Homo sapiens: one gene and its partner. The protein of the gene in region 1 purifies or fractionates together with the protein of each later gene. This does not show direct contact. Each region holds a gene or a part of one and is shown on either strand. Other genes may lie near its edges.

What was found.
Region 2: the proteins of BCORL1 (region 1) and SCMH1 purify together in Homo sapiens (affinity purification with mass spectrometry, with the first as the bait; one large-scale study listed by BioGRID). This does not show direct contact.

The regions. Positions count from the first base shown.
Region 1 is NC_000023.11:129,981,329-129,985,434, reverse strand, and holds the start of BCORL1 (BCL-6 corepressor-like protein 1), read right to left. Parts: upstream 2,801-4,106; 5' UTR 2,673-2,800; exon of another isoform or gene 2,545-2,672; intron 1,050-2,544; exon of another isoform or gene 1,006-1,049; intron 1-1,005. UniProt on the Homo sapiens protein: Transcriptional corepressor. May specifically inhibit gene expression when recruited to promoter regions by sequence-specific DNA-binding proteins such as BCL6.
Region 2 is NC_000001.11:41,043,307-41,046,806, forward strand, and holds part of SCMH1 (polycomb protein SCMH1), read right to left. Parts: intron 3,293-3,500; coding exon 3,101-3,292; intron 2,827-3,100; exon of another isoform or gene 2,407-2,826; intron 585-2,406; exon of another isoform or gene 1-584. UniProt on the Homo sapiens protein: Associates with Polycomb group (PcG) multiprotein complexes; the complex class is required to maintain the transcriptionally repressive state of some genes.

The DNA of each region.
Region 1 (4,106 bases):
TCATCTTTAGTACCACATGGTGACATCACCATTCAATTAAAGTACCCTAAACTGTGCACCAGACATCCTCCACTGTGCCATCTACCATCTTCCCCAAAATAAAGCTCCCTCAATTCCAACATTCAAGGACAGGACATATCAACAGAAAAGTAAATAACCTTAAAACTCCCTTCCAACCTTGAAATTTTATAATCAACCTAATCCACTCCCAACCCCAAATGCAATCCACATTTATTTTCCCATGTAACTCAACGGCGTGCTTTTGAGAAAGAGCCTTCTAAGTTGAAAGAACCACAGGGCTAACCACTGTAACGCTAACCTACAACTCATCTCCAGAAGTCTTACTGAAGATTTTTGCAATTGTACTCCACCTCTGTACCACAGGGACGACCTCCAAACTGCCTTAACAGTAGTCAAGCTGTGGCACAAAGTTACCGGGCCCCCTTCCCACACTAACGTAAAGAGCCTCTAAACCCTGGGCTAGATGCTTGCTCGCCAAAGGATGCCTGTCTTTACTGTCTACTCCAGGAGACACCAAGAATGAATATCACCCCATCGACAGTTTCGATCAGCCAACATTGAAAATTTCAAAACAATAAAACAAAAACATAGTGCTTCCACTCAGGGAGGGAGGAGGTGCGAGCGGAATAGAAGGGCACCCCCACGGGCCTGTGCTGTTGGCCTCCCGGGTTTGCAGTGTTTCCCTCCCACCTTTCCCCTCGACCACGTCTTTCCCTACAACAATCTCCCGCACCTCCATAACGCGAAATCCCCAGCCGAGGTGCGGCCGGCTCCTCCCAGCCTTGCCCCGGACGTCCCTCTGGCCCAGCCTTCCTCTCGGCGGGACCCCGGCGAGGAGGGCCCCCTCCACCGACCAGTTCACCTCCCTATCCCTTCCCCGGCCTCTTGGCGCCCCTGCAGGGCTCTGTCCCGAAACCGAACCTCGAGGAGCCAAGCCCACGAGGCCAGTCGCGGGACCCACACCCCCCTTCCTTCTCCCAGCACCTCGTCCTCCATGCACCCGGCCCCCGGGGCTCCTCGTCGTCGTCGTCCCGGCTCGTACCGCCCCCCGTCGGGGGCTCCACCCCCCCGCCTGCCCCCGCCCCCAGGACGGCCCCCTCCCCACCGCGCGCCGCCTGCGCCCTCTGCCCCGGCACGGGACTCTCTTTGGCCTCCGTTCCCCGCCCAGAAGCGGCGGCGGCGGCGGCGGCAACGGCTGCGGCGGCCCCAGCAGGAGCAGCAGCGGCGGCGGCGGCAGCGGCGGCGGCAGCAGCGCCGCCCCCGGCCCCGCCCCGCCGCCCGCCGGAGCCCCACGCCCCGCCCGCCCGCCCCGCCGCCGGACTGCTCCCCCCGAAGCCCACCACTAAGCCCTCCCACTCCCCGGCCGCGATCCGCTCGAATCCAGCTCCGCTGGGCCTGCTGTCCGTCCCTCACGCCCCTTAGGACCCGGGGTGGGGGAGCCCTGGGGTTCGCGGCCATCCCTCTCCCTCCTTCTCCAAGGGCCGGGGGATTGCCCCTGATCCCGAAACCCGGCCCCGTAACCGGAGCCTCCCTCCTTCCAGCCCTCGGCTTCGCTCGCCGACCCCTTGCCTCCAGGCCTGGCGCGAAGCGGGTGGAGGGCTTGCACGCCGGATCTCCCCTCTGGCTTGCCGGTGCTAGTATGAATTGCCCCCGATCTCATCTTCCTTCAATTTAAGCCCCCTCCCCGCCGCGCCCGGCCCGGCGGCCCCCGCCCCTAGAGCGAGGGCAGCGGAGCCAGGGCGCTCCGAAGTCATCCCCCGCCTTTTTTCCAGGGACTCGGATAATTGCCCCTGCCCCCATCACAGCACTCCCACTCCCGAACCCAGGCCCCGCCGCCACCTAGGGGTACCCCTTACCCTACGATTCCCGCACCCCAGCGCCGGGAAGAAAGCAGCCCTGAAGAGCACCCGTCGCACCTCCCCTCTGAGGTTGGAGGGCATTTTCTCCCGGTCTCTTCAACACTTCATCACGGACACCCCCCCCCCCCAAAAAAAAGCCTTTTCTCGCCCTGCCCTGCTAGCCAGCCTCCCTTCGGATCGTCGGATCCTTGGATCGGGGGTTGGAGTCAGGTAGTTAACAAGACCATAGCCTCCACCTCCCTTTCCGAGGAGTGGGGTAATTCCTATGGTTTCCCCCCCAGGATCAACCGACCCCCGTTTCCATGGAGACCCCCGCCCAGCCGGGAAGAAGACTCTCTTGGATCGTGGCGAACGAGTCTCACCTGGCTAAGAGAGAAGGGGGTCGAGAAGGGGGTAGGGCAAGTCAGGGGATGGGGTACGAAGGTGGGAAGTGGAAGGGAGCTGTCCCGAAGGGAGGGGCGAAGACATACCCAGCTCCAGGGAGCGCTACGTCCGGGGACACGAAGAGGACGGCGCCCCCGGGGGGCAAGCCGAGCGGCCGCAGGGAAAAGAAGGAACAGGGTTGGAGAAAGGCTTAAGATAGAAAGAAGCGGGTGGGGGGATACGAAAAAGCCGGGGAGTCAAAAGGGGTGGAGGGATTGGGGGAGAGAGAAAAAAGACGCACCTGTTCCCGGGTCGGCTCCGCGGGGAGGCTCAGGCCGCCACCCGGGCTCCCTCTTACTCCCTCTTAACCGCCACCCGCCTAATACTGCCCCGATCTGATGCCCCCCTCCGCCCCTTATCGCCACCGACCTCCTTCTCCTCTCTCTCGGCGGCGGCGGCGGTCGGACTCTAGGAACTGAGAGGAAGAAGGGAGGGCTCAGCAAAGCGGAGGAGAGACAGAGCCACACACTGGCAGCAGCCGCGGCGAGCGAAAGAGTGAGGGGGAGAGCGGTGTGTGTGTGTGTCTGTGTGCGAGCGAAGCCTGGTGGAGTGGGTGCCGGTCGCAGGGCTCGACGGGAAGTGGAGTCCGGCTGGGTCCGCGGGCGGCGCCAACCCCCGCTCCACCGGACTACAACTCCCAGAATGCGGCCTACGCGGGTGGGGGGGAATGGGGAGGAGGAGGCGAAGGGAGGGAGCGAGCAAGAGAGGGAGGGACGAAAGCAGGGAGCAAGCGGCGGCGAAGGGGGCAGAGCCAAGCAGCCCCGGTGACACTGGGAGGGGAGGAGAGGAGGAGGGGATCGCTGAGAGGACCGAGCGGATTCCGGAGAGGGAGGCAGCAGTGGCTGCAGCAAGCCGGGCAAAAAGCTAGACTCCTGGGAGAGGCGGAGGCGCTCAATCTGCGGGGCTGCAGGAGCCCCACGTCCCCCCCCACCTCGACGCCCCTCGAAGGGGGAGGTTGAGGAAGGGAGAGGGTCAGTGAGCCGCGGCCAAAGGGTTCTCTCTCTTTCTTCCAACGTTCTCCACCTTATGCCCCGACCTGACTTTCTCAGGCCACTGGTGCCGATCCAGTGTGCAAATCTCGAGACCCCAGATCTCCTCTGCCGGGCAGCGGAGAACAGACGCATTCAGTCCCCTTCTCCCAGGGGCCTGAGGGAGGCTCCCCTTGCAGGCAGGGCGTGACTCCCCCTTCTTCCCGCTCCCCCCCCCACCGTCGTCGCCACCCCCCCATCTCCCTCCCCGGAACCCCTCCCCTGAAGCCGGGGCTCGCCTCTCTCTCTCCCCGCCAAGACACGGAGTCCTTCTGGGGACGACTACCCAGCCCCCTCCCTTATACTGGGCCCCTACCCACCAGTATCCCCTTCTTAGCGTTGCCCCCTCACCGAAATAATGGTGGGGGCGACCCGAGTTGGACTGGTGGCTACTTTCCCTCCAAGGCTAGCCGTCCTTCGCCACGCCGACCCTGTGTAGAAATAGAGAAGCATATTAATACTCCCGTCCCCCCTCCCCCCCAGATTTGAATACCCGTGGAAGTGGCTCACAAGAAAGAGGGGTTGGTAGTGGAAGTGAGCTAGGGGTGAATCCCAATCTTCAAACCTCATCCCTCCCATGGAAATCCAGGTATTCGCCTTTTGCTTAAAAGCCATTAAATCGCTTGGGTGGGGGGTAAATTATCTAAACCCCAATGTCCATGCGACTCGAAGCGACGCTACCTTGTAGGAATAAGATACGAACTAGGTTGCCGCCACGGGAAGGAAAGTATCCCCCACCCCCGTCGCCGTCCACCCCCAAAAACACATACCCCTA
Region 2 (3,500 bases), on another chromosome or scaffold:
TGGTCTTGAACTCCTGACCTCAAGTGATCTGCCCACCTTGGCATCACACAGTGCCGGGATTACAGGCATGAGCCACCGCACCTGGCCTAGTAGTATTTTATTAATGTTAAATTTCATTAGTTTTTTTTTTTTTTGAGACAGAGTCTCGCTCTGTCGCCCAGGCTGGAGTGCAGTGGCGCAATCGCTGCTCACTGCAAGCTCCGCCTCCCGAGTTCACGCCATTCTCCTGCCTCAGCCTCCTGAGTAGCTGGGACTACAGGTGCCTGCCACCACGCCCGGCTAATTTTTTTTTTTTTTTTTGTATTTTTAGTAGAGATGGGGTTTCACCATGTTAGCCAGGATAGTCTTGATCTCCTGATCTCACGATCCACCCGCCTCAGGCTCTCAAAGTGCTGGGATTACAGGTGTGAGCCACCGCGCCTGGCCTCATTAGTTTTTATTTATGTTAAATTTCTTAATCATAATAATACTATTATGTTCCTTATTCTTAGGAGATAAACACAAAAGTATTTAAGGATAAAATCTCTCATCTGCAGTTAACTCTCAAATGGTTCAGTAAATAAATGAAAAACATTTTAAATATACAGGTATTCAACAAGTATGTATATTTATATGTGTATATATAGTTAGGAGAAACAGACGAAGTAAATACTGCAAAAAGTGGTAAAGATAGGCAAAGAGTTCATGGTTGCTTATTGTTCTATTTTTGTAACTTTTCTGTAGGTTTGAAATTTTTAAAATAAAACATTGGAGAAAAAAGTAGTAGTCTCAACTTAGGTAGGAAAGCTTAATGGGATATGAAATCTCCCTGAGCTTTGGGTGACTACCTGCTATATCGGAAGTGCATGGTCAGTTGGGCCAGGACTCTAAGTGGTAGGGTAGTGTGGAGACAAGGATATAGGAAAGGGGGAGGGCCAGTAAGCACCCAGATAACAGAGGTGGTACCTATGTATGTCTAGCAGAAGCGTGTAGCCAGGCAGAAGGGCAGGAGTCATAAATACCAGATCCAAAGGGCAAAGCAAAAGACAGCTCTTGTACAGATCGAGCTCTTTGGCAGAGGTTTAGGTAAGTAATCAGAAAAACACAGGAAATGATAATATCAGAGGTGGGGCAAAGGGTCAGTAAGGCAGGCAAGCAGGCAGGAAGGCAGGCAGGCAAGCAGGCAGAAAGGATACACTAAGAAGCACAGAGGAATTAGAAGTTTAGGCAAGGCTCTGGCTTGTCTGGGCATAGTTAAAGGCTAATTTCAGGGAAGCAAATAGAAACTAGAGTGAGAGCAGACAAGTTGCTGAGCACCCACGATGAGAAACAGCTTAAGAGCAGAGGAGGACACAAAAAGTGGGCTCAATCTGTCTGAAAATGGGGAAGGGAGAGGTAGCAGCTAATGGCAGAATGTGATACCTTGGTCTTTGTTTCTCTTAGTTGGTGAGGCAAGAAGAGTCTGGCTAAAGTTTGCTTCCTCTTATCTAGTGGCTGAATCAGAGAGATGTAAATTGGGGCAGAATTCCCAGGAAAGGTCATGCCCCGGTCCCAAACCACTTTTGGGACTGCAGGCCCATGAGGTACATCCTTACCAGTCTCTGAATGCTGCTACCAGTATGTTTCTCTCACTTCTTAATGATGGCATTCCATTTAAGAATTCGGAGTTCCTATTTCTTTGAGAAATCTCTTTTTAAACTAGCAGCTACATTCATGGATGTGCTAACCCCCATTCATGCATCCATTCTTTCAGAATCCCAGGTAGGCCTAACTTTCACGTCTGAAATGTAGATCAGAGTTCCTGAATGCCTAACTGGAGGTATTTAAAACTTGCCTTTGTCTGGACCAGCTCTACCATGCCCAGTCCAGACTCCCAGTGCAACATTCTAACTGCAAGTCAGAATGCCTTTTTCTTTTCTCAGAGACTCTGGTACTGAAAGAAAGCAATCTAGCATGGGTTAGGTGAGGAGAAGTTCCCTCCATAGAAAAGGATCAGCCAGGGGATCATAGAAATGGCTGCAGGGATCAGATGGTCTGGCCCCCACAGAGTATTTAAAATTCAGGTATCTTTTTGACCTGCTTGCAAGTCACATAAGCAATACGGATTTGGGTACAGAAGTATCTATGAGGGAAAGGGGGAAGGAGAATGGGGGAACAGTCACTTCCCTGGGCACATTCTCTAGAAGCAGTGCTTTTATCGGAGGTGATTCTGTTAAGACTATGATGAAAAGACACCAGGGAAGGCAGTGTGGGAACAAGACTTGTTTGTGTAGAGGAAGGTCGGAAAAGACACCTTTCAGACCTGTGCCCTCCCATCAACAGACAGCACAGCACTCACACTGGCAGCACCCCTCCCTATTTCTCTGCTCAGGACACAATCTGCAGGGCTTTTTTAAGGGCCTTTCCTCCCTCTCAGTAATGACCTACCTTGCTATGTTTAAGGCTGAGCTTTTCTTCCCTCCCTTGTTCTGTGTCCTGGGTTCCAGATGAGAGACGCAGAGTTCCATTGAATCTTTAATCTCTCTCGGAAGTACTTAGTCACTGATTTGGCCACGTGGCATCTGCTTTCCCATTGTGGGTCTGGTATGTTAACTAAGAAAGTTATTTTCCAGCCGAGTTAGAAATAGCAGGAACTTGAATTGACTTGCTAGACTGGCAGTGCTGGAAGTTAGGGCCATGTGCCAAAGGAAAGAATAGATGGCCAATCACCAGGGAGCAAATTTCTCAATCTGTAGCCTGAGACTAAACCTTCCTGCTGGCAAGGGAGATGTGTGTTAGGCCTTTGCTGCCAGGTTCACACTGGGAGACGTTCTGTGACTTCTTGGTGGCTCCACATGCAGTCTGAAACTCAGAAGGGGAATTGCGAACCACCTTTTATCTAGGGATAAGGATCTAGAAGAAATAGGGGTGATCCTAGAGACAGAAAACAAAATCCTGAAGAAAAAGTAAAGATGAGAGGAGGCTGAGAAGTCTCAGATATGGCAAAGGTAAGGGACAGAAAAGCAGACCTCTAGATAGTAGGTGCCAGGCCAGTAGTTCTGAAGGCTGACCCTGGGCCCCTGCAGGTGCTGCTGCTAGCCCTGTCCCCCACTCTCAGCCCAGGCCCCATCCCAGCTCCTACCTGGTAGGTACCTGTCGTGGCTGTGGCTGTACTCTATGGCAGTGAGTGACAAGTGAGTCTGTGTAAAGGGCTGGTTGCCAAACAGATTGTCACTACGAAGGTTGTGGCAGAGTTTCTCCAGGAAGCGGAGGACGTAGGTGATGCTGTTGACTGCTGGGAGGTTGAGGGTATGCTGTTCCCGGTCAAACACGGCTGTGGAGTGAGTAAACAGGGCCAAGCATGTCAGCCTGGCAGTGGAGTACAGCGCTAGGCAGGACGAGTCCAGCCCACTGCTTGTCTCAGGCTTACCTGGTTACACAAAGGGAATCAGTGCCCCACGTTTCCTCCCTCCCTCCCTTTAACTCCCTCCCTCGAGGGCTTTGATTTTTGCCTCCAACTGTAAAGGGCTTGCAAATATGGG